Linked DNA regions of Homo sapiens. The protein of the gene in region 1 purifies or fractionates together with the protein of each later gene. This does not show direct contact. Each region holds a gene or a part of one and is shown in the gene's direction. Other genes may lie near its edges. The genes, in order: PDCD10, CNN2, PPP2R1B, RNFT1, HABP4, PPME1 and IVNS1ABP.

Region 1 (3,500 bases):
CAACATCACTAGTGGCACTTTGTCGGGTCCCATGGTATTATCCCATGTTTAAAGTATTGCACTAAACACGATGAGAAAAATATGTGAGGGCTGGGAGGTATTACTTTGTACTGGGATGTGCAGTTTGCTGGAGAGATGAACTGTTCACATGGAGTTGATTAGAGTCACATGGCGTTTTAATCATATACTTACTAATACTTGAACTGACTGCAATAGCAACAGGAGGTGGCTTCAAACTTATTACATATACACGTGTACTACAGTTAATTTTGTGCAGTTATGATTTAATATTGCATCTGTATATTTGTTTATATTTCTTTTAACTGCAAATAACACCATGTACAGTCTGTTTGCGTGTGAGTTTTGATAAATTTTAACTTTTTAATAATTTGTATCTATTTTATAGTAAATACTAAAATAGACTAGTGGATAACTATATTTTATGCATTCATAACATGTGTTTTTATTATTTTTTTCACTACTTATAGGCTACTCAGTTTGTCTATAAGTTTTTTCAAATTGTTGCTGATCTCCAAAAATTTTTCCTATATATTTATTGAAAAGTATCTGCATGTAAATGGACCTGAGCAGTTAAAACCAGTTCTTCAAGGGTCAGCTATATTCTACTTGATTCCCTCTCCCCCTTATCCTCTATGAGAGGTTCCGATAGGTTGTCCGTCTTCCAGACTGAGAATCACTGATCCACAAGAGTGTATGTTGCTGCCCTTCGGTTTATTTTTTTCTTACAGCTGGATTCTTTACAAAGATTAGACACCCTACAGGGTTCATGTTGTATTCTGAGGGAAAACCTAAGAGTTGTAGATTGTCTCCCTGATTTAAGACCATATTTATTCATTTTGTCAGTCAGAGCCATTTGGTAAATTCAAGCTTTTGAAATAAGAATTAGCTTAACCAGGTTTTTAGCCAGGAGGTACTGAGACTACTCCTTCCAAACTATGTACTGAGGTACCTGGTGGCCCATAGCAAATTCAGAGGGGTGCCACGAAGTATTTTAAAATTGTGAAGGTGTACAGTGATACTCAACATCTGTTTGACACTGCATGGACTCCTAGCTTGAGATGGATTGCAATTTAGCATATTGGATTGTCCTTCACTGCTTTCATTGGTGTTAGATCATTGAGAAGCTGGACTTTTTGGCCAGTGCTATGATCTAACAGAAGTACCAGAAAAAAATATATCTGCAAGAGGAAATGAGAGGGGCAAGGTCCAATCTAAGACCAATGTTTGAGAAATTATGAAGTGCCCAGTAGGCACACACATCCCAGTAATAAGTGACAATAGTTATTTAAGAACAGAGTAAAAATTGTTTTTTTCAATTTATGTGTATTATTTTTTTAAAGGCTAGGTAGTTAGGACACTATACTTATTAAGTTGTTTAGACCTAAGTATTTAATAAACAGCACTGTGAGGTGTATCTTTTGGCACTAAGGACACTGAAAACTGAGAAAGTTAGGGACCTTTGTGAGACTTTTGTAATGCTCTAGCTTTAGCATTTTGGGGTCCCAGACCAGCTTGGTATTGAAAACTTTATTCTCAGACTTTCAGCATTTTAACCTTTCAGTACTTTATTATAACTTAATCAGAGATATGCTTTTCTTTTTCTGTCCCCTGCAAGCACATAGAGAATGTTCCCCCTCTCCCCAAGATAATTCATTATGTAGGAAGATTTATTGCTAGATAAGATAAAGTATTGTTACTGAATGCTACATTATATGTAATTTTGTGGCAGTTCACCGCATTAATGCTATAACAACACATCTTAAGCCATATTTGGACATCTTATAAAGGAAACTCCTTTTTTAAAAAACACAGTTTTTTTTGTTTTGTTTTGTTTTTAATACGAGGTCTTATTCTGTATCATAGGCTGGAGTGCAGTGGCATGATCATAGCTCGCTGCAGCCACGAACTCCTGGGCTCAAGCAGTCCTCCCATCTCAACCTACCAAGTAGCTGGGACCACAGCCACACCCCACCATGCCTGGCTAAAAAGTAGATTCTTTTTAAAATATATATCCATGGAAGGAAAAGTCAACATAGGCTGTAAAAGAAACAGGATTCAGTCAAACACAGTTTATTGTTATTAATCATCTATCAAAATGATTTTCCTGAATAGTATCTGACAGCATTTAAAATGATCCGAAGATTGGAATAAATGCGTGTATTTTCTTTTCTCATTTCATCCCACAACCCTTCAGTTTTTGATACTTGAGATCTAATGAGAAACAAGATGTTATAATGGAAAGAGCAATAGGAAGAGAAGAAAACTGTATCTGCAGTGATAATCAATGGAATTGAAGAGGCGGAGGTTAAGTGTGCTTGACACATAAGGAAACAAAAAGATTGCCATCTGATTAAGATCGTAAATTGTGTTTCTATTTTGCTGTTTAATATTAGGGCAAAAAGGAAAGAAAATCATCAGCATAATGATTAAAATTGGCAGGCATCCTACAGGAAACAAACATCAAGTGTGATTACAGAATTTACTGGGAAAAACTGAAATCTGAAGATTAACTCTGGCTTTGGTAAACTCAGAACTCTATGCCCAGTCTTGAAATGGCTAGAAAATTTTAGTGTCTTGGGGAGTCTAAGTAACATAGAACCAATGCAAACTCAATGAAACAAGCTCAAAAGGTAGTAAAAGGTTTCATGATGTTCTAGAAACCAGTGAAGGAAATATTCTTGCTACAAAAATAAAATAGGAAATGAAAATCATTGTGTGGGAAAATAGTTAAGGTATTATTATATAGGTTCAGTAAAACCTTCAAAATAAATCCTTTTTTGTTTTTCCTGGCATTCTCTTAATATAAATGGAAAGAATATGCAAAACACTAGTCAGATGAGTTATTGCTTGATCCTTGAGTTGCAGTATTAGCACATTAAAAAAAGCTTAAATTCTCAAGATATTTAAAGTAATGAGAATAGCAATTGATAGATTACTAAAACATATATAATCCTTAATTCTATCTTTGTTATTAGTTCAATTGCAAAAGAGTATAAAGAAGAGTAGAAAATACTAAGTTCTTTCTGTTCAAATGGAAAATGGAACCTTAGTCATAGTAAAGAGTCGGGTGCACAAGCTCTAACAAAGCCTTAGTGAATGCTATCATGACACCTGCTTTACAAAGATTTCTGCCCTTAAAAGTTATCAGTGTAAGACGCTCCCAACAGATTCTAAACAATTAAACTTTGGCTTTAAAATGTTGATTCCTTATCTGTATTTCAAAACTAGTTTTCTCTTTATTATAGGCTGAAAAAGAAAATCCAGGTCTCACACAAGACATCATTATGAAAATTTTAGAGAAAAAAAGCGTGGAAGTTAACTTCACGGAGTCCCTTCTTCGTATGGCAGCTGATGATGTAGAAGGTAACGGACAGAAGAACCTTGTTTAAGTTATACAATTGTTAAATAGCACTTCCTCTAAATCATTATTATTTGACCAAAGGATCTTCCTTCCCTACTGTTTTCCCTCCCTCCCTTTC
Region 2 (3,500 bases), on another chromosome or scaffold:
AGGTGCCAGGTACTTCAGATTCCTTGGTGAACAGGAAGGACATGGTCTACCCCTTATGCAGTTCAGTCTGATGGCGGAGGCATGCAAAAGTGAACACAGCATTGTATTATGCATTATATGTAAGCTCTGGCCGGGCGCAGTGGCTCACACCTGTAATCCCAGCACTTTGGGAGGCCGAGGTTGGAGAATTGCTTGACACCAGGAGTTCGAGACCAGCCTGGCCAACATGGTGAAACCCCATCTCTACTAAGAAAACAAAAATTACCTGGGCGTGGTGGTGCATGCCTGTAATCCCAGCTACTCGGGAGGCTGAGCCCAGGAGTTAAGAGGTTGCAGTGAGCTATGACCACACCACTGCTCTCCAGCCTGGGCAACAGAGCAAGACTCTCTCAAAAAATAATCATAACAAAAGTAATAAATAAGCTCTGAACTGGGAGAAATGCCTTGAAGGAGAAGAATCAGACGAATGTTGAGTGTCTAGTGATCTTCAAACCCAGACCGGGAGCGTGGGTGGGACAGTGGTGTAGACCGGGAGCGTGGGTGGGACAGTGTCTGGTGTAGACCGGGAGCGTGGGTGGGACACGGTGTCTGGTGTAGACCGGGAGCGTGGGTGGGACACGGTGTCTGGTGTAGACGGGGAGCGTGGGTGGGACGGTGTCTGGTGTAGACCGGGAGCGTGGGTGGGACACGGTGTCTGGTGTAGACGGGGAGCGTGGGTGGGACGGTGTCTGGTGTAGACCGGCAGCGTGGGTGGGACACGGTGTCTGGTGTAGACCGGGAGCGTGGGTGGGACGGTGTCTGGTGTAGACCGGGAGCGTGGGTGGGACACGGTGTCTGGTGTAGACGGGGAGCGTGGGTGGGACGGTGTCTGGTGTAGACCGGCAGCGTGGGTGGGACACGGTGTCTGGTGTAGACGGGGAGCGTGGGTGGGACGGTGTCTGGTGTAGACCGGGAGCGTGGGTGGGACACGGTGTCTGGTGTAGACCGGGAGCGTGGGTGGGACGGTGTCTGGTGTAGACCGGGAGCGTGGGTGGGACACATTGTCTGGTGTAGACCGGGAGCGTGGGTGGGACGGTGTCTGGTGTAGACCGGGAGCGTGGGTGGGACACGGTGTCTGGTGTAGACGGTAAGCGTGGGTGGGACACGGTGTCTGGTGTAGACCGGGAGCGTGGGTGGGACGGTGTCTGGTGTAGACCGGGAGCGTGGGTGGGACACGGTGTCTGGTGTAGACCGGGAGCGTGGGTGGGACACGGTGTCTGGTGTAGACCGGGAGCGTGGGTGGGACGGTGTCTGGTGTAGACCGGGAGCGTGGGTGGGACACGGTGTCTGGTGTAGACGGGGAGCGTGGGTGGGACGGTGTCTGGTGTAGACCGGCAGCGTGGGTGGGACACGGTGTCTGGTGTAGACCGGGAGCGTGGGTGGGACGGTGTCTGGTGTAGACCGGCAGCGTGGGTGGGACACGGTGTCTGGTGTAGACGGGGAGCGTGGGTGGGACGGTGTCTGGTGTAGACCGGCAGCGTGGGTGGGACACGGTGTCTGGTGTAGACGGGGAGCGTGGGTGGGACGGTGTCTGGTGTAGACCGGGAGCGTGGGTGGGACACGGTGTCTGGTGTAGACCGGGAGCGTGGGTGGGACGGTGTCTGGTGTAGACCGGGAGCGTGGGTGGGACACATTGTCTGGTGTAGACCGGGAGCGTGGGTGGGACGGTGTCTGGTGTAGACCGGGAGCATGGGTGGGACACGGTGTCTGGTGTAGACGGTAAGCGTGGGTGGGACACGGTGTCTGGTGTAGACCGGGAGCGTGGGTGGGACGGTGTCTGGTGTAGACCGGGAGCGTGGGTGGGACACGGTGTCTGGTGTAGACCGGGAGCGTGGGTGGGACGGTGTCTGGTGTAGACCGGGAGCGTGGGTGGGACACGGTGTCTGGTGTAGACCGGGAGCGTGGGTGGGACGGTGTCTGGTGTATACCGGGAGCGTGGGTGGGACACGGTGTCTGGTGTAGACGGGGAGCGTGGGTGGGACACGGTGTCTGGTGTAGACGGGGAGCGTGGGTGGGACGGTGTCTGGTGTAGACGGGGAGCGTGGGTGGGACACGGTGTCTGGTGTAGACCGGGAGCGTGGGTGGGACACGGTGTCTGGTGTAGAATGGAATGGGAGTGTGTGTTTGTGACATGGTGTCTCACGTAGAAGGAACAGCAAGGTCTTGACATTGGAATTGGCTGGGCTGTTAGAGGAAGCGGGAGCTGGTTTTCTCCTGGGGTAACTGCTCCAAATGGTGTTTTCAGATGCCCCCTGTGGCTCCCAGTAACCTCACGTGGGGAATGGTGGTCAGGGAGGAGCCGGGCGCAGACATCCCAGTGAGGGGCAGAGCCAATGGCCTGGCCATGGTGCCCGGGGATTGGGTCAGAGGAGGTGGTGGAAGGTGAGAGAGAGGAAGCGAAAACCACGTCCCCATCCCCAGAATTCTTGGCCTGAGCCCTGGAAAGCTGAGCTGTTGCCTAAGACAAGGCACGCTGGGATGAAGCAGCCCCATGGGCTGGGCGCGGTGGCTCACGCCTGTAATCCCAGCACTTTTGGAGGTTGAGGCGGGTGGATAACTTGAGGCCAGGAGTTCAAGACCAGCCTGGCAACATGGTGAAACCCCGTCTCTACTAAAAATACAAAAATTAGCCTGGCGTGGTGGCACACGCCTGTAATCCTAGCTACTTGGGAGGCTGAGGCAGGAGAATTGCTTGAACCTGGGAGGAGGGGGTTGCAGTGAGCGGAGATCACACCACTGCACTCCAGCCTGGGTGACAGAGCCAGACTCCATCTCAAAAATAAAAATAAAAAACTGAAACAGCTGTATGATGGGTGTGTGGAGTGTGTGGAGTCCCAGACACCCGAGAGATGTGCCTGTGGGGGCTCTGCGCGGCAGGCAGAGGTGACAGGCCGCGGCCTGGTCTCTGTCCCGCCCCCAGGGCCTAGATCTAGGGTCCCTGGCTGCCCTCTGCTGGTACTCCCGGCCCCTTTCCCTCACCCAGGCCAAGACTAAGGGGCTGCAGAGCGGGGTGGACATTGGCGTCAAGTACTCGGAGAAGCAGGAGCGGAATTTCGACGATGCCACCATGAAGGCTGGCCAGTGCGTCATCGGGCTGCAGGTGGGCGACAGCTCCCCCAGCCCCAGGGACCACGGCATTGGGGGACCACGGTGTTGGGGGACAGCAGCATTGGGGGACAGCGGCATGGAGCCCTGTGGTCCCTCAATTTCAGGGAGGGACCGGAAGCTTGTTGGGTGCAGTCTGACCTCTCCCACGAACCTCCCTGCAGATGGGCACCAACAAATGCGCCAGCCAGTCGGGCATGACTGCCTACGGCACGAGAAGGCATCTCTATGACCCCAAGAACCATATCCTGCCCCCCATGGACCACTCGACCATCAGCCTCCAGATGGGCACGAACAAGTGTGCCAGCCAGGTGGGGCTCGCCCGGGTGCCCCCGACTCCTCTCCCTGCCCCTCTA
Region 3 (3,500 bases), on another chromosome or scaffold:
AAGGCTTTTTATGACCCGCCTCTGTAGGATTATCATATGCCCAGTGGTACTGCATGAGAAGAGGTGACAGTAGGCAGGGAACAGACTGCAAAAGGCCTTGATAACCTCTTCCATTCACATTGGTCATCTTTCTGTTTTTTGAACTAACCAAGCTCATTATTCCCTTAGGACCTTTGCCCTAGGTCTTCCCTCTAATGAAAAGCTCTTTCAAGCTTTCTGTGGCTGGCTCCTTGTCATTCAGGGATCAACTTCAATGCATCTCCTCAGGGAGGTTTTCCCCAACCACTCAACTTAAAATAGCCTCACAGTCATCCCTTACTACATCATCCTACTCCTTTTTTCTATAGAGTACTCATCACCATCTACTTATTTTCTTGATTGATTGTTGTCTTACTCCATTAGAATGTAAATGCCACTAGAGTGAGGAACCTTGTCTGCCTTGTTTCTTCTGTGTCCTCAATGCTAGAATATACCAATAATAATGTATTGAAAAAATGAGTTTCAGAGGCTTGGAAGCATGAAACAGGCTGGGTTCAAAACTGCCGGAGTGTGGCTGGGTGTGGTGGCTCACACCTGTAATCCTTGCCTTGGGAGGCCAAAGCAGCAGGAGGATTGCTTGAGGCCAGGAGTTCAAGATCAGCCTGGGCAACATAGTGAGACCCCAACACTTAAAAAAAAATAGCTGGGCATGATGTCATGTGTCTGAGTCCTAGCTATTCGGGACGCTGAGGCAGAAGGACGAGGAGTCTGAGGCCGCACTGAGCCATGATTGTGCCACTGCACTTCAGCCTGGGCAACAGAGCAAGACCCTGTCTCTTAAAAAAAAAAAAAAAAAAGAACTGCTGGAGTGTGAAGTGTTGAGGCTGGGTAGGCAGAGTGGTCATCAAGGGCCAGGCAGAGTTCAAATCAAGAGACCACTCATAAGCAATTCTCAGGAGCATGGCCTCATCCTGTAGTAATGATAGCTATTATCCAGTGGTACTGCACGAGAGGGGGTTACAGTAGGCAGGGGACAGATCATGAAATGCATTGGCAAGTGAGAAACAGTATCTTTTCAATGAGTTTCTGAAATACCTTCTAGGAAAGCTGAATACTGTCTACCTGTGTGTATCAAACAATTTTTAAAATATATTATTAGACACACTTCTTTTCTTTAACTCATTATGCTTCTGTTTCACTCTTGGTTAGTTCTATATGTGGGTTTTATGCTTTAAAATCTGTAGCTCATGGCATGTGTAGAATCTACCTGGACTACATGCAAACTCAGTAAGGCAGAGGTTCAGAGAGCCAGCCTGTTTACACTTTTTACTAGGCCATGCCATATTCAGTTACTGCTCTTAATCCAGACCATCCACCCCATTTGGCTTCTTTTATTTCTAAAGCTGTAAGCAAGGTGTCCTACCATCTCTGTACTTTACCTTTTTTTTTTGAGACAAGAGCCTCACTCTGTCACCCAGGCTCAAGTACAGTGGCACAATCTCGGCTCACTGCAACCTCTGCCTCCCGGGTTCAAGTGATTCTCATGCCTCAGCCTCCTGAGTAAGCTGGGTTTACAGGCGTGTGCCACCATGTCTGGCTAATTTTTGTATTTTTTGTAGAGACAGGGTTCCACCATGTTGGCCAGGCTGGTCTCGAGCTCCTGACCTCAAGTGATCTGCCCACCTCGGCCTCCCGACGGCTGGGATTACAGGTGTGAGCCACCGTGCCTGGCCAGTCTCTGTAGTTTTCACTTGATTGTTCTGTCAGAAACTCCTTTCTGCCCTATGGCTAATGGAAAGTTGCTGAATGTGTTCTGAAAAAAGCAATTTTGCATTCAGCATTTTATAGGTTGGATAAAAGGATGGGATGGAGATGGTGGATAAGGGTTGCTTGCACCTCTGGGAATGGTGGAAAGATACTGAAAAGGCTGTGGACTCAGTGACCTGACAAGCTGTTATCCTGTATTTGTGGTGCCTAACATTGGTCATAGTTTTGTACTTACTCTTGAGGAAATATACATGATCCTGTCTGAATTTGGCTATGTATCTTTTAAACCTAGTGATTCAACTCACAGTAATATTAATATTGTGTCAAGTCTTTTACACTGTGTCATTTGTAGACACCATCTGGGAATTGCCATCTGGGACACGAGATCTTGGCTTTTCTACAGAAGTCGTGTCTTTGGGTTGGCCGCACCATATGTTATCACTGTGTGAGCTGAAAGTAACCATTTGGTATGATGCAGCTAACATTCTGGTTACGTGTACCACCTCCCTTCAGTCACTTTAAAAGGTGATTATCTGTTTCTAACCTGATTCAATAAGTTTTCTTCTCTGGTTTTCCTTTTTAATCCATTCAGCCTCCTTTGGAAAATCTGGCAACTGTGGAAGAGACTGTTGTTCGTGACAAGGCTGTGGAGTCCCTGAGACAGATCTCCCAGGAGCATACTCCTGTTGCTCTGGAAGCTTATTTTGTACCTCTGGTGAAACGCTTAGCAAGTGGGGATTGGTTCACCTCTCGCACATCTGCATGTGGTTTGTTCAGCGTTTGCTATCCCAGGGCATCAAATGCTGTTAAAGCAGAAATCAGACAGTAAGCCATGGTATTTTTTTGCCTTGTTAAAGCAGAAATCAGGTAGTAAGCTATGAGTTATTTGGGATTACTGGGGACTTGTAGCTGACAATTTACATAGTACCTTGTTACCAATGAGTGGCTGATACTAGGATAGTAGGATTTATGACATCTTTCTTTTTTTTTTTTAAGAGATAAGGTCTTGCTCTGTTGTCTAGGCTGGAGTGCGGTGGCACAATCATAGCTCACTGCAACCTTGAACTCTTGTGCTTAAGTGATCCTCCAGCCTCAGCCTCCAAGTAGCTAGGACTACCGACATACACTACTGCGCCTGGCTAATTTTTAAAAAAAATTTCTGGCTGGATGCAGTGGCTCATGCTTGTAATCCCAGCACTTTGAGAGGCTGAGGTGGGAGGATTGCTTGAACTCAGGAGTTCAAGACCAGCTTGAGCAACATAGTGAGACCTTGTCTCTACTAAAAAGAAAAAAATTAGCTGGGCATGGTGGGACCCGCCTGTATTTCTAGCTACTCAGAAGGCTGAGGTGGGAGTTCACTTGAGCCCCCGACAAACAACAACAAAAATATTTTTGGCATATAGATAGGGTCTTGCTATGTTGCCCAGTCTGCTTTCAATTCCTGGCCTCAAGCAGTCCTCCTACCTGGGCCTCCCAAAGTGCTTTGATTACAGGTGTGAGGCACCATGCCTGGCCTATGATGTCATTTTTTATTATCCAGTTGAATATGTTTTATTTTTGTTACTTCTATAAGTAGAAGCTTAGTCACTGATTATTGTAAGATAAAACCTCTAAAAGTCTGTCTGTGTGTATGGGGGGCAGGTTTATTCAGTGTTATTTGATGGGAAATACCTTCATTGTTTTATGTTGCAGGCAATTCCGTTCCTTGTGCTCAGATGACACACCAATGGTACGACGTGCTGCTGCTTCCAAAT
Region 4 (3,500 bases), on another chromosome or scaffold:
ATGCTATTTAGTCTTTGTTTAAATGAATCCTCCTTTTGCAGTTTTTCAGTTTGCTAACTAGCTTAATTATCTGTATTATTTCAGCTTAGCAACCATTTGTTCAGGCACTTGAACCTGATTATTAACCTATTTGGATAAAATCAGAATTATATTTGCTTCAGAATAATTTTAAAATCAGTCCCCACATCATATGTGGGAAACTATTTAGATGTGTACTTCTGTTCTCCAGGGCATTATCAATTGACAGTTGACTATGTACAATTATTCAGTGGTTTCCCATATGCACTAAAAACTTTTAAATTCTTATAATCAGCAAAAACATACTCACATAGGTTTTACTTGCAGTATACATAAAACATTCTCATTGTATCTTTTTTTTTGGTTTTGTTTTGTTTTGAGATTGTCTCTCGCTCTGTTGCCCAGGCTGGAGTGCAGTGGTGTGATCTTGGCTCACTGCAACCTCCGCCTCCTGGGTTCAGGCAGTTCTCCTGCCTCAGCCTCCTGAGTAGCTGGGATTACAGGTGCCCACCACCACACCCAGTTAATTTTTGTATTTTTAGTAGAGACGGGGTTTCACCATGTTGGCCAGCTGGTCTCGAACTCCTGACCTCAGGTGATCTGCCCATCCCAAAGTGCTGGGAGCCACTGCGTCCAACCTAGAAATTCTTTCAAAGCAGGCCACTCAGTGACTGTAATATGTGAGAACCAGCTTGAGGTTCAGTCATAATCATTATGAAGATTAATTTTATAGTTATTTATATTATTGTATAATATACTCAGTGTTCTCAGTCTAATATTGTTTGTGCTATGTAGTTAAGTAGTTTGGGTAGCTCTATTTGTTTTCTTCTTATTTTTTAGGGTTACTGGTATATGCTTTTAGAAGAATTGTGTCAATACTACCGAACTTTTGTTCCCATACCAGTTTGGTTTCGCTACCTTATAAGCTATGGGGAGTTTGGTAACGTAACTAGATGGAGTCTTGGGATACTGCTGGCTTTACTCTACCTCATATTAAAAGTAGGTAACATTACAAATCTTGTCACTGCATGATTCACATTAATGATTACTGATACATACTACTGTTTTCCTCTTTTAACAGTTTTATAGTTTATCTTCATATCACTAGTTTGAAGTAATAGCAGGTTCTATATTTGTTTAGAAATGGAGAAACGGAAATAGACTATCTTAATCCAGCGGTCCTCAGGTTTCACTGGAGGGAAGGGGAGTCGACCTTCACATAGCGTGGATTATCTAAGTAGGGAAAACAAGTGGAATAGAACATACCCATCCTCAACAGTAACATTGTCATACACATAATTCTTAAACTAGTAGAGTATCTTGTCCTGTTCTCTCCATGCCTGCACCCCTCAACCTAATAATCACTTTATGAAACTTTAAAATCTAAATGTTAAAAACAGGTGAATCAGATAAAATTGCTTTGACTTTGACATAGTTGTATTTGTCTTGATCAAATTGTTACTCTAGGTGTTTAAATGTACTTCAGCTTGCTGAGATGGCTCAAATCTATAAATTGAATAAAATACTCAGCACAAAATGATTAGATGTGACATATAATGAACATTAAGTTAATATGAGGATTTGATGTTATGGGATTTCAGCTTTGGTTTTTGGGTTTAGCAAATAGGACTGTTTGAATTAATAAATGATCTCTTATTTCTCTTTTCAGCTTTTGGAATTTTTTGGGCATCTGAGAACTTTCAGACAGGTTTTACGAATATTTTTTACACAACCAGTAAGTACTTTTTATCAGTTAAGAAAAACACCTTCACCTTTCTTCACTGCAAAAATTTTTTTAGTTCAGCAGTTTTACAAGAATGGATTTCATAAATAGATGATCCTTTTCTTTTACTTTGATTATTTTCTAGTACTTTGGCACTTGGGGCTATAATAATTTAGGAGTTTTATCTCTGTGATCAGATTCTTGAATCACACATTGACAACCACCTGCTAATTGTTGCAGTGCTTATATATTTGAACTTGTCTCTTGCCTCTTCAATCCACTGGACATTTTTAAGGCTTGTAAACCCTTAACAATCTTATGAAATTGTGTTCCTCTTTTTTAATCCACAAATGGGGGCTTTGTTTGTTCCTATTAACTCCTTATTCACCTGTGAAAATCCTTCCATTGTAATTTATTGTTTAGAAAGCTCACTGCCAAAAATCATGTCTCTTGCAGTTTTCTTACTGGAGCAGATTTCCCCATTGCTCAATTATATGTGCATAAATACGTTCATGGCATGAAATTTAACAATTAATTGAGTCTCTGGTGTCATTTATAACATTATTGTGTGATTCTATTGATGTTGCAAATTGCAGTGAAAGGATGTCATAGAGAACCCTAATTTACCACTTAGTAGCCTGAAAGGTTCCTAGTACCTATGTGTGGTCAGCAGACTTCAGGGTTTGATTCTCAATTTTGCAGTCATTTCATCAGGGCCCAAGGAGACTGACTTAAAAGAATGCCAACCGAATAATATACCGTAAAAATAAAAAAAGAATTATGTCTACAAAGTAAACGAGACTAACTGGCCAGGGCCTTTTCCCTAAGATAGAGTTAGCAATGTAGAAACAAACTTTGCTACATCCTATGCAAGCTTGTTTCTCTAGACAAGACATAATAAAATTCAGAGAGTTCAGCTTTGTCCAAGTCAGTTCAACTGATGATTATGTGAGCATCAACCATTTTACTATAATTGGTCTTGTAAGATTTGTGCCGAAATACTCTCAAGAAAATACCCTGATATTCTTTCTCTGAGACAAACTACAGAGAGGATATCAGTCATCAATACTTGGATTTGTTCAAGTCTCCTTTACCAGGGAAATGGCAGTTACTATCTGGAGAGGGAGTCTCCAAGATGCCAGATGAGTAACGTCTTAAAAGCTTGTCAGCATAATTATCTGCAAATGTACTTTGCTAAATGACACCTTACTGAAGGGAAATTGACACCAAGATCATCTAACAGTATCCTGACTTATTTCTGAAATCTTTATTACCAGTTTCAAAAAACCTCAATTTTTAATATCTTTATCCTTTGAGTTTTACTTTGATTTTGATGTTGTTAGCCTGAGACGTTTTAGTACAAGAAGTTTAGATAACTTCAGCTATGTTAAGTCATGCTTTACCCTCATGACCGTGACTGACTTGGGTGTTCTTACATCTCTTTAGTTACCTCTTCCCCATCATTTCTACAGAAAGCAGGTTTCATTTGTAACATTTTGATTTCTCCAAATTTCACTGAGGGTTATTGACATCACATCTAGTTAATGACTAAGTTCTGAATCTGGTGAGGAGGTTAAAATCTTAGAGACGAGTAACTTGTTATTAGGACATTAGAAGAGAAGAAAATTCAAATAATTGCATTTTTGTTCAGTTAGTTTTGACAGTAGTTATTCTACCAAAGCGACATTTACAGTTGCAGTTTCTCCGTAAAACTTTTTTATGTTTAGCACTAAATGCTTTTTATAATTTCGAATAATTT
Region 5 (3,500 bases), on another chromosome or scaffold:
CCGCCTCCCGGGTTCAAGCAATTCTCCTGCTTCAGCCTCCCGAGTAGCTGGGATTACAGGGATTACAGGCGTGTGCCACCACACCCAGCTAATTTTTGTATTTTTAGTAGAGACGGGGTTTCACCATGTTGGTCAGGCTGGTCTTGAACACCTGACCTCATGATCCACCTGCCTCGGCCTCCCAAAGTGCTGGGATTATAGGTGTGAGCCACCGCGCCCGGCCTGTTTTTTCCCCTTAAACACTTTTGAGATATAATTCTCGTACTATAGCACTCAAATCTCTAAGTATATAGGCCAGGTGTGGTGGTTCAGATCTGTAATCCCAACACTTTGGGAGGCAGAGGCAGGAGGATAGCTTGAGGCCAGGAGTTCAAGACCAGCATGGGCTACATGGAGAGACCCCGTCTCTACAAAATGGTTGTAAAAATTAGCTGGGCCTGATGGCTCGTACCTGTAGTCCCAGCTACTCTCAGGAAGCTGAGGTGGGAGGATCCTTGGGCTCAGGAGGTTGAAGGTATGGTGAGCCATCATCATGCCACTGTACTCCAGCCTGGCCAACAGAGTGAAACCCAGCCTGTATCAAACAAATAAATGAGTAAACGACTGAATGCATGGATGGATGGTTTGGGGTATGTTACATTATTAATTTTTTAAAATTGCAGTAAAAATAACATAAAAATTGCCATTTTTACCATTTTAATATATATAATTTAATGGCATCAGTAACATTCATATTGTGTGTAACCATCACCACCATCCATCTCTAGAACTTTTTTTTTTTTTTTGAGATGGAATCTCACTCTGTTGTCCAGGCTGGAGTGCAGTGGTGCGATCTCGGCTCACTGCAACCTCCACCTCCCGGGTTCAAGCGATTCTCCTGCCTCAGCCTCCTGAGTAGCTGGGACTACAGGCACATTCCACTACACCCGGCTAATTTTTCTGGTATTTTTTAGTAGAGACGGGGTTTCACCGTATTGGCCAGGCTGGTCTCGAACTCCTGACCTCATGATCCGCCTGCCTCAGCCTCCCAAAGTGCTAGGATTACAGGCTTGAGCCACTGTGCCTGGCCTTGTAGAACTTTTTCATCACAAACAGAAACTCTATATCCATTTAACACTAACTCCCCATTTCTCCTCAGCATGTAGTAATCTCTATTTTACTCGTGTTTATGAATTTGCCTATTCTAGGTGCCTCATCTAAGTGGAATCGTTCAATGTTCCTTTTGCACCTGGCTTATTTTAACTATTAGCATCAAGTTTTCAGCTTCATTCATGTTGTAGCATGTGCCAGTCTTCATTTCTGTTTTTCTTTTTTTGTGTGTATTTTTGTGATGATTTTCAAATCTACGATTTTAATCCTTTTAAAGTGTACAATTCAGTGGCATTTAGTACATTCAGAGTGTTATGCAACCATCACCATGATCTGGCTCCAGAAGGTTGTTATCATCCCAAAAGGAAACCCCATGCCCATTCAGCAGTCACTCCCTATCCTCCCTCCCTGCAGCCCTGGCCACCACTGACCTGCCTCCTGTCTGTGTGAATCTGGCTCCTCTGAATATTTCATGTAAATGGAATCATACACAGAAGTCTTTTCTGCCTGGTTTATTTCACTTGCATCATTTTTTCAAGGTTTGTTCATGTCGTAATGTGTATTAATACTTTGTTTCTTTTTATTGCCAGATAATATTCCAAAAAATGTGCCATATTTGGTTTATCCACTCATTAGTTAATAGACATTTAGGTTGTGTCCACTTTTTGGCTATTATGAATAGCACTGCAGTGAACACTTGGGTTTAAGTTTTCATGTGGATGTGTGTTTTCATTTCTCTTGGGTATAAACCCAGGAGTGAAATTTCCGGGTCAGAGGCTAACTCAGCTTAGATTTTTGAGGAACCGCCAGACTGCTTTCCAAAGAGGCTACACCATTTCACATTCCCACTGGCAGTGTATGTGGGTTCCAGTTTCTCCACATCCTCCCCAACGCTTGTCAAATGTCGTTTTGGTTCTAACCATCCCACTGGGTGTGGACTGGTGCAGCTCTGTGGTTTTGACTTGTCTTTCTCTAATAGCTAATGATGTGCAACATCTTACTGCCTATTTGTATATCTTCTCTGGAAAAATGTTCACTCAGATCCTTGCCTTTTTTGGGGGGAGGGTGGTCATTTGTCTCAACTAAAGAGGACTTGTATCTAGAATTCATAAAGCATTCTTTTTTTTTTTTTTAAAGAGACAGTGTCTCATTCTGTTGCCCAAGGTGGAACACAGTGGCCATTCACACGTGTGATCATAGCTCACTGCAGCCTCAGATGCCTGGCCTCAAGCGATCCTCCCACCTCAGCCCCCTGAGTAGCTAGGACTATCGGCATGAGCCACCACGCTTGGCTGTTCATAAAGAATTCTTTATGTATTCTAGATACAAGTCCCTTGTGAGATATATTATTTGTAAATATTTTATCCCATTTTGTGGACTGTCTTTTTACTTTCTTGATGGTGTCCTTTGTAGTATAAAAGTATCTGATGATGTTCAATGTATGTACTTTTGTTGCTTGTTTTTTTGGTGTCATGTGGAAGAAACCATTGCCCAGTCCAGGGTTAAGAAAGTTTCTGCCTAGGTTTTCTGCTAAGAGTTTTATATTTTAGCTCTTGTATTTATGGTGTGAGGTAGGTCTAACTTCATTCTTTCTTTTGGTGTGTGTGGATATCCAGTTGCCCAAGCACCGTTTGTTGAAAATACTTTTCATTCTCCATTGAATTGTCTTTGGCACCACGGTTGGAAAAAAAAAATCAGTTGACCGTAAATGTGAGGGTTTATTTCTGGACTCTGAATTCTTTGCTCTCAATCTATATTTCTGTCTTTTGTTTTCTTTTTAAAACTCATTAAAGAGGATATTTGCAAAAGTATGCATTCATGAGCCACTGCTTTAAAACTTGTTTATGGTTTCCTGTATTTTATTTCAACCCATTGTCCATAATTACCTCATTTTGTCTGTCATGCTGTCTGGAAGGGAGTGCCAGTGGTGAAGTGTGATGTTAATGTCATCAGGATGGTGATGTTCCCATTTTTCAAAGATTGATTTGAACACAGATAGGAAGTATCTTCTGTTGGCAGTGATGACATAAAATGTTGAAAATGAAATATGGAAGCTTGTGAGTCAAAGATTTCCTTACCTTATTTGCATTTGAAATGCAGTACCACAAAAATATGTTGAATTAATGGTTATAACTTTTTCTTTATAAAGTAGACATTTTAGTACCATCAAAAAGTATTCTTTATGATTATATATCTCTTTATAGAGTTCCTGAGTTGGAGGTAGAAGAAGAAACCCAAGTTCAAGAGATGACTTTAGATGAGTGGAAAAATCTTCAAGAACAGACCAGACCAAAGCCTGAGTTTAACATCCGGAAACCAGAATCCACTGTTCCTTCCAAAGCCGTGGTGATTCACAAGTCAAAATACAGAGATGATGTAAGCATTGCATTTCGTATGTAGAGGTAATCTTT
Region 6 (3,500 bases), on another chromosome or scaffold:
AGTGGGATTCCTGGATCATACAGTAGTTCTGTTTTTAATATTTTGAGGAACTGCCTTGATGTTTTTCTTATTGGTTGAACTATTTTACAACTCAGTACACAAGGGTTCCTTCCGAATTCTCCACATCCTCACCAACACTTATTTTTCTCTTTTTTGATAGTAGTCATCCTAATGGGGGTGAGGTGGTATCTCATTGTGGTGTTGCTGTGCATTTATTTATTGATTAGTGATGTTAAGCATCGTTTCATATGCTTATTGGCCACTTCTGTATCACCTCTAGAGAAATGTCTATTCAAGCCCTTTGACCATTTTTTAATCAGGTTACTCGATGTTTTTAGTTGCTGAATTGTAGGAGTCCTTTATATATTCTGAATATTAATCCATTATAAGATATATGATTTGCAAAGATTTTCTCCCATTCCATACACATAGTACCATTTGTCTATTTTTGCTTTTGTTCACTGCTTTTTGGTGTCATATCCAAGAAATCATTACCAAGTCTACTGTCCAGCTTTTCCTCCATGTTTTCTTCTAGGAGTTTTATAGTCTTAGTCTTACTAGGTCTTTAATCCATTTGAGTTAATTTTTGGATATGGGATAAGGCCCCAGCTTCACTTTGGAATATGCATATCTGTTTGGTTATCCCAGTACTGTTTGTTGAAGAGACTGTTCTTTCCCCATTGAGTGGTCTTGGCAGTCTTGTCAAAAATCATTTGACTATTTATGTGAAGGTTTATTTTTGGGCTCTCTATTCTATTCCACTGGTCTATTTGTCTTTACGGCAGTACTAAGCTGTTTCAATTACTGCAGCTTTGTAATTGGGGAGTGTGAGTTCTCCAATTTTGTTCTTCTTCAAAATTGTTTTGGCTAGTCAGTGTCTATGAGATTCCATATGAATTTTAAGGTGATTTTTTTTATTTCCTAAAAAAAAAAGCCATGGGAATTTTGATAGAGATTATATTGAATCTGTGGATTACTTTGGGTAGTATGGACATCTTAAGCATCCAGTGATCTTTAAGATAATATGTTACTATCTCATGTTCACTTTTAGATTTTCATATTGTGGTTGATTCAGTATATTTATTTCAATTATAATGTTTCAAATATTTCAATGGTACAGAAAAATATAGAGAATTATTTATTTTTTCAGCCAATATTTGATTGCATACTCTGTGCTTATCTACAATAAAGATTTAATAAATGTTGACATTTTGTCATATTTGTCTCATATTTCCTTTCAAAATTACTATTGCAGGAACATTATATCATTATCATAAAATATAAGAAAAAATGCTCTACTGACAAATCAACCTATTTTCAGTTTTCCTTTTTAGTACTTTACTATACCACATTTTTCCAGTAGTAATCCTAACTTAGATGACATGTTGTAATCTGTTTCTTGCTTATATTATAAGCATTTTTTCATACTGCAGTATGTTCTTTGTAGTTATTCTTTTGATGAAACATCCTTTTGCCAACCAAGTATAAGAAAGGCTTAATCTTGGCACTACCACTTACTAGCTTTGTGATCTTAAGAAAGTTTCCTAAATTCACAGAAACTAATAGCAATAAAAAGTAAACTTGTAATTATCTTAAAATGAATATTAACAGTGACCCATACAACAAGACTGTTGGAAGGATTGAATGTATATTAAAATGTCTAGGACTTAGTAGGTCCTTAATAAGTGCTAGTTTCCTTCCCTTTCCTTTTCCCAGGGATCTAGTTTTTAATCCTGTTCCTCCAGGGGTTGCCCTCGGAGACTCAGAACTTGCTCTTATTCCTCCAGACCAAGAAAGACCATCCATACACCTGGAGAATTGAACTGGCAAAAACAGAAAAATACTGGGACGGCTGGTTCCGAGGCTTATCCAATCTCTTTCTTAGTTGTCCCATTCCTAAATTGCTGCTCTTGGCTGGTAAGTGTATATGTGCATATATTAGTCAGCTCAGGCTGCCATAACCAAATATCATAGACTGAGTGGCTTAAACAACAGAAATTTATTTTCTCACAGTTCTGGAGGCTGGAAGTCTGAGATCAGGGTGCCAGCATGGTCAGGTTGTGGTGAGGGCTGTCTTCCTGGCTTGCCTTCTCTCTGTGCCCTCACATGGCCGAGAAAGAGTGAATGTGAGCTCTCTGGTGTCTCTTCTCTTAAGGATATTAATTAGGGACGTTCATCCTATCATGTCAGAGCTCTGCCCTCATGACCTGAGGTTACGTCCTTATAGGCCCTAGTTCCAAATACAGTCACATTGGGAATTGGGGCTTCAACATGAGTTTTAGGGGGACACAACTCAGTCCATAGCAGTGTTGGTATATTGTCATCTCAATATGACCTCATTAAAACTTCTCACCAAATGAGTAGTGACATCCAAAGTAGAGTACCTTCCTCATTCATCTATGCCTTTTCTCCTCCCCACACCCAGTCTCTAAACCTAACTAAGCATAAGCATTCATCTAAGCATAAAGGATGACCTAATTCTGGCCTGGCCTGTCTACTTGGTCAAGCTCAAGTCCTTCTTAGTCTAGAGCTAGATGCAGTGGTATAAGGATATTCTGATTATTATGAGAATTAAAATAGTAAAACCTTGTTTTCAGAACCAGTTTAACATAGTAATTATAGGGGAATCTCAACCTGAAAAGTTTTATCTGGTGGTGAGAGTATGCTCTGGGAGTTAGGATTGGTATAAACATGAATGGAGAATGTCATCATATTTAAAACTTTGTAACACTTTTTACTTAATACGTGAACAGCAAAATCTGTTTCACAATGAATTCTCTTGTTTTCTAGGTGTTGATAGATTGGATAAAGATCTGACCATTGGCCAGATGCAAGGTAAGTTATCAAGAAATTATACCCCTGGACCCTTTTCTGAAGAAAGGGTGATAGGGCAGTTAACATCCTGAGATAGTGAGGTATAACGGAGAAAGCATGAGCTTTAGAGTCCGACCCAAGTTGGACATCCGCCTCTACTCCTAACACACTATATGATTATGGGCAAGTATTTCCCTTTCCTGAGCTTTAATTTGTTTAAAAAAAAATCCATCCAAAAATGAAGATTATAATACTACTACCTATGTCTCAGTTATAAGAGTTAAAATGAGGCAATGTGTTTAAAAATTATAAAGTACTGTATAGGTGTATGATACTGTGAAAAGAGATATTCTGACTACTGATCAGTTTTTTGTTTGTGGGTTTTTTTTTTTTTTTTTTTTTTGAATTGGAGTCTCACTCTGTTGCCCAGGCTGGAGTGCGGTGGGACCAATCTCGGCTCACTGCAACCTCTACCTCCCAGGTTGAAGCAGTTCCGGGCCTCACCCACCCCAGTAGTGGGATTACAGGCATGCACCACCACGCCCAGCTAATTTTTGTATTTTTAGTAGAGATGGAGTTTCACCATTTTGGCCAGGCTGGTCTCAAGCTCCTGACCTCAAGTGATCCACCTGCCTTGGCCTCCCAGAGTGCGAAGATTATAGGTGTGAGCCACTGCAGCTGGCCAG
Region 7 (3,500 bases), on another chromosome or scaffold:
ACCACCATGACTGCCTAATTTTTACATTTTTTGTAGAGACAGGATTTCACTATGTTTCCCAGACTGGTCTCAAACTCCTGGGCTCAAGCAATCTTCTTGCCTTGGCCTCCCTATTACTGTTCTTTATTTTATTTTATTTTTTTAAGATGGAGTCTCTCTGTTGCCCAGGCTGGAGTACAGTGGCACAATCTCAGCTGACTGCAACCTTTGCCTCCCAAGCAATTCTCCTGCCTCAGCCCCCACAAGTAGCTGGGATTACAGGCGCCCGCCACCATGCCTGGCTAAATTTTGTATTTTTAGTAGAGATAGGGTTTCACCATGTTGGCCAGGCTGGTCTTGAACTCCTGACCTCAAATGATCCACCTGTCTCGGCCTCCCAAAGTGCTGGGATTACAGGTGTGAGCCATAGCGCCCAGCCTATCACTGTTTTTTAATTATGCATTTTGTGTAGTCATTAGTCAGTTGTTTATAAGTAATGGTAAAATGCAAAAAAGTTGTAAGTTCCCATTTATATTTATATAATCTGATGAGATAAGTGATTTAGAATATATGAAAGAAAGGAACAGAATATAAGTTCATCTTTTTAAATCACTGTATATGTTTCAAAACATTTATAAAAATAATTTCGTAGATACAGTGACAAGACTAATCAGACTTTTTAAGTTTGTGTACTAGGCAAGGGAGGAAGACATTAGGCAATTTTCTGCATATAAATCTTGATTATATATAATTTTGAAGACTAGAAGCAAATTGGGGGCCCTTTAAGACAACTGAAAAAGGCTAGGATTAGGATAAGTAACAGTTTTTCTCATTTGTGGGTAAAGGAATGACAGGAGCCCAAATCCAAGGAAACCTATATGTACTGGCTATTTCACCCTTTCAGGCTTTTAGATTACTTATTATATGGGTTTGGGCAGGATGGAGTTTCGTTTCCTTCCCTTCCCTTCCCTTCAGAATGAATTTGCTTAATGGGCATGGGAACCTGGCCAAAATTGTCGAGATAGCTGCTACTGTTTGAATCCTTTAAAAGTCTTATGACCAAAGTATTAGGGAACAAAGACTTGGACATTCAACACAGGTGTTGTTTCAGCTAAGTTTTTGTGTGATGAAATTTTTATGTGTTGTTTATAGGATGGAATTTGAGAATAAAGAGACTGTATTACTCTTTAGCATTATATTTTTAAAACCATCAGTTGCAAGTAAAATAACTCAGCTTTCTTTTCATCATCTAGCCAAATTTATAAGGAAAAATGATTCCCAATGGATATTTGATGTTTGAGGATGAAAATTTTATTGAGTCTTCTGTTGCCAAATTAAATGCCCTGAGGAAAAGTGGCCAGTTCTGTGATGTTCGACTTCAGGTATTTAAAACTTAATTCAAAATTTATAGAATTTTTTATTACTAAAAGCCATAAGTTCTTAGATTTGCTTATTTCTTTTTCATAGGCATTTAATGAAATGATTTTTTAAAAGAATACTGAGAAATGTAAGATAAAGGAATCTGATATAGTAATTAGCTAGAGAAGCACATAATCCACAATACTTATAATTATAATTCTTCATAATTTCAGGTCTGTGGCCATGAAATGTTAGCACACAGAGCAGTGCTAGCTTGCTGCAGTCCCTATTTATTTGAAATCTTTAATAGTGATAGTGATCCTCATGGAATTTCTCACGTTAAATTTGATGATCTCAATCCAGAAGCTGTTGAAGTCTTGTTGAATTATGCCTACACTGCTCAGTAAGTACATTTGAAGTAAACCATATAATTAGGGAATATCTTCAGAAAATTCCAAGTCTTGCTACATATATTTAAATTAAGTGTGTTTTAAGGCTTTGGTATCATAAGTAACTTTTTTTTTAAATAGGTTGAAAGCAGATAAGGAATTGGTAAAAGATGTTTATTCTGCAGCAAAAAAGCTGAAGATGGATCGAGTAAAGCAGGTAGAGTATCAGAAGTAAATAAAATCATTTATGGAGTCTTATTTTGTGTGATTGCAATGCTGAATTTGTCATAAAACATCTTGTTAGTTTCAAGGACTTGAACATGTCCCTTTTTTCCCTCAGAGTAGTCAATATGTTATTTTAACTGTTTGGCTATAATAATGTAGCAAGATCACACTTCTTCTCAGATAATTTGGGCTGAAGTCTGACCCTTTCAGCAATCTTCTCTGGTAGGGTGGCTATGTCAGCCTTTGATAGCATGAATTAAAATTAATATTTTTCTTAAGAGTTAATCACATAACTTATATCCTCAATTCTGTGTTCTCCTAAACTTCCTGTGCTCTCTAAAAGTATTCCTTCTAGAATTTAATGCCAGTAAAAAGTACTTTTGGAAAACAGGCATTTAATCCCCTAATGCATGGGGGTCAGTAAACTTAAGGCCTACTGGCCAGCTGCCTATTTTTATAAAGTTTTATTCAAACACAGCCATGTGTGTTCATTTACATATGGTCTACACTGCTTTCCAGCTACAGTGACGGAATTGAGCAGTTGTGACAAACAGAATGGCCTACAAGCCTAAAATGCTTTTACTATCTGGCCCTTTAAGAAAAAGTTTGATTTGCTAGCCCTTCTTCTAATACCACTCCTTTGTTCAAAAATCCTTCCTTAATTTACAGTACATATCCCTGCATTTAGTTTCTAGATTTTCCCTTATATAGTTGCTGTCTTTCCAAAACTATTTCCTAGTTATCTTTTCTCCAACCAAATTAAATTGTTTGCAGCATCTTCTCTACTTCTGTCTGCATTCAACATCAACATCATCTCTCCTGTAGAGCCCAGTTCAGATACTGCGTTTCATGAAGCCTTACCAAATTATTCTACTTGAAAATACTTATGTGAACTTACATAGCATTTCAATTTGTTGTACCTCTCCTTAAACTAAAACTTACATATCTGTATGGCATAATTAGATGTTTATCATTTGTATACGTGTTATTACCACTATTAACATTTGTTGTATTAAGACAGTGATTTTTGATTCTTTGTATCTTCACATAGTCTTTACCACACTGAACATTAAATATTTGTTGAATAAAAGATATGTAAGTGTTGGCACTCATATATTTCTTTTCCAAGGTTTGTGGTGATTATTTACTGTCTAGAATGGATGTTACCAGCTGCATCTCTTACCGAAATTTTGCAAGTTGTATGGGAGACTCCCGTTTGTTGAATAAGGTTGATGCTTATATTCAGGAGCATTTGTTACAAATTTCTGAAGAGGAGGAGTTTCTTAAGCTTCCAAGGCTAAAGGTAAGGAGTAAAGTCTATAAACAGATATATACTATCTAGTTCCAGGCGTGGAATCTTGGTCTGTGTTTCAAGCAAGTGAGTAATGATTATGAAATAATACATTGAAATTATATTGTTATTCTTAGCAGCGTAATGGGTTTCTCCCTACCAGTTTGTTTACTTTGTTTTTGATTCAGTAATCAAATTCCTTACAAATTCCTGGTTCCTTACAAATTCCTGGTTCCTTACAAATTAGAGTAAATGTA

The links.
Region 2: the proteins of PDCD10 (region 1) and CNN2 fractionate together in Homo sapiens (co-fractionation; one large-scale study listed by BioGRID). This does not show direct contact.
Region 3: the proteins of PDCD10 (region 1) and PPP2R1B purify together in Homo sapiens (affinity purification with mass spectrometry; one large-scale study listed by BioGRID and IntAct). This does not show direct contact.
Region 4: the proteins of PDCD10 (region 1) and RNFT1 purify together in Homo sapiens (affinity purification with western blotting, with the first as the bait; one study listed by BioGRID). This does not show direct contact.
Region 5: the proteins of PDCD10 (region 1) and HABP4 purify together in Homo sapiens (affinity purification with mass spectrometry; one large-scale study listed by BioGRID and IntAct). This does not show direct contact.
Region 6: the proteins of PDCD10 (region 1) and PPME1 fractionate together in Homo sapiens (co-fractionation; one large-scale study listed by BioGRID). This does not show direct contact.
Region 7: the proteins of PDCD10 (region 1) and IVNS1ABP fractionate together in Homo sapiens (co-fractionation; one large-scale study listed by BioGRID). This does not show direct contact.

The regions. Positions count from the first base shown.
Region 1 is NC_000003.12:167,696,893-167,700,392, reverse strand, and holds part of PDCD10 (programmed cell death protein 10), read left to right. Parts: intron 1-3,266; coding exon 3,267-3,384; intron 3,385-3,500. UniProt on the Homo sapiens protein: Promotes cell proliferation. Modulates apoptotic pathways. Increases mitogen-activated protein kinase activity and STK26 activity. Important for cell migration, and for normal structure and assembly of the Golgi complex.
Region 2 is NC_000019.10:1,033,108-1,036,607, forward strand, and holds part of CNN2 (calponin-2), read left to right. Parts: intron 1-2,959; coding exon of another isoform or gene 2,960-3,022; coding exon 3,023-3,139; intron 3,140-3,308; coding exon 3,309-3,455; intron 3,456-3,500. UniProt on the Homo sapiens protein: Thin filament-associated protein that is implicated in the regulation and modulation of smooth muscle contraction. It is capable of binding to actin, calmodulin and tropomyosin. The interaction of calponin with actin inhibits the actomyosin Mg-ATPase activity.
Region 3 is NC_000011.10:111,759,890-111,763,389, reverse strand, and holds part of PPP2R1B (serine/threonine-protein phosphatase 2A 65 kDa regulatory subunit A beta isoform), read left to right. Parts: intron 1-2,338; coding exon 2,339-2,571; intron 2,572-3,438; coding exon 3,439-3,500. UniProt on the Homo sapiens protein: The PR65 subunit of protein phosphatase 2A serves as a scaffolding molecule to coordinate the assembly of the catalytic subunit and a variable regulatory B subunit.
Region 4 is NC_000017.11:59,954,741-59,958,240, reverse strand, and holds part of RNFT1 (E3 ubiquitin-protein ligase RNFT1), read left to right. Parts: intron 1-858; coding exon 859-1,017; intron 1,018-1,687; coding exon 1,688-1,753; intron 1,754-3,500. UniProt on the Homo sapiens protein: E3 ubiquitin-protein ligase that acts in the endoplasmic reticulum (ER)-associated degradation (ERAD) pathway, which targets misfolded proteins that accumulate in the endoplasmic reticulum (ER) for ubiquitination and subsequent proteasome-mediated degradation.
Region 5 is NC_000009.12:96,481,169-96,484,668, forward strand, and holds part of HABP4 (intracellular hyaluronan-binding protein 4), read left to right. Parts: intron 1-3,293; coding exon 3,294-3,465; coding exon of another isoform or gene 3,466-3,489; exon of another isoform or gene 3,490-3,491; intron 3,492-3,500. UniProt on the Homo sapiens protein: Ribosome-binding protein that promotes ribosome hibernation, a process during which ribosomes are stabilized in an inactive state and preserved from proteasomal degradation.
Region 6 is NC_000011.10:74,244,289-74,247,788, forward strand, and holds part of PPME1 (protein phosphatase methylesterase 1), read left to right. Parts: exon of another isoform or gene 1-1,207; intron 1,208-1,745; coding exon of another isoform or gene 1,746-1,787; coding exon 1,788-1,917; intron 1,918-2,790; coding exon 2,791-2,835; intron 2,836-3,500. UniProt on the Homo sapiens protein: Demethylates proteins that have been reversibly carboxymethylated. Demethylates PPP2CB (in vitro) and PPP2CA. Binding to PPP2CA displaces the manganese ion and inactivates the enzyme.
Region 7 is NC_000001.11:185,307,244-185,310,743, reverse strand, and holds part of IVNS1ABP (influenza virus NS1A-binding protein), read left to right. Parts: intron 1-1,232; 5' UTR 1,233-1,250; coding exon 1,251-1,361; intron 1,362-1,571; coding exon 1,572-1,741; intron 1,742-1,868; coding exon 1,869-1,944; intron 1,945-3,081; coding exon 3,082-3,255; intron 3,256-3,500. UniProt on the Homo sapiens protein: Involved in many cell functions, including pre-mRNA splicing, the aryl hydrocarbon receptor (AHR) pathway, F-actin organization and protein ubiquitination.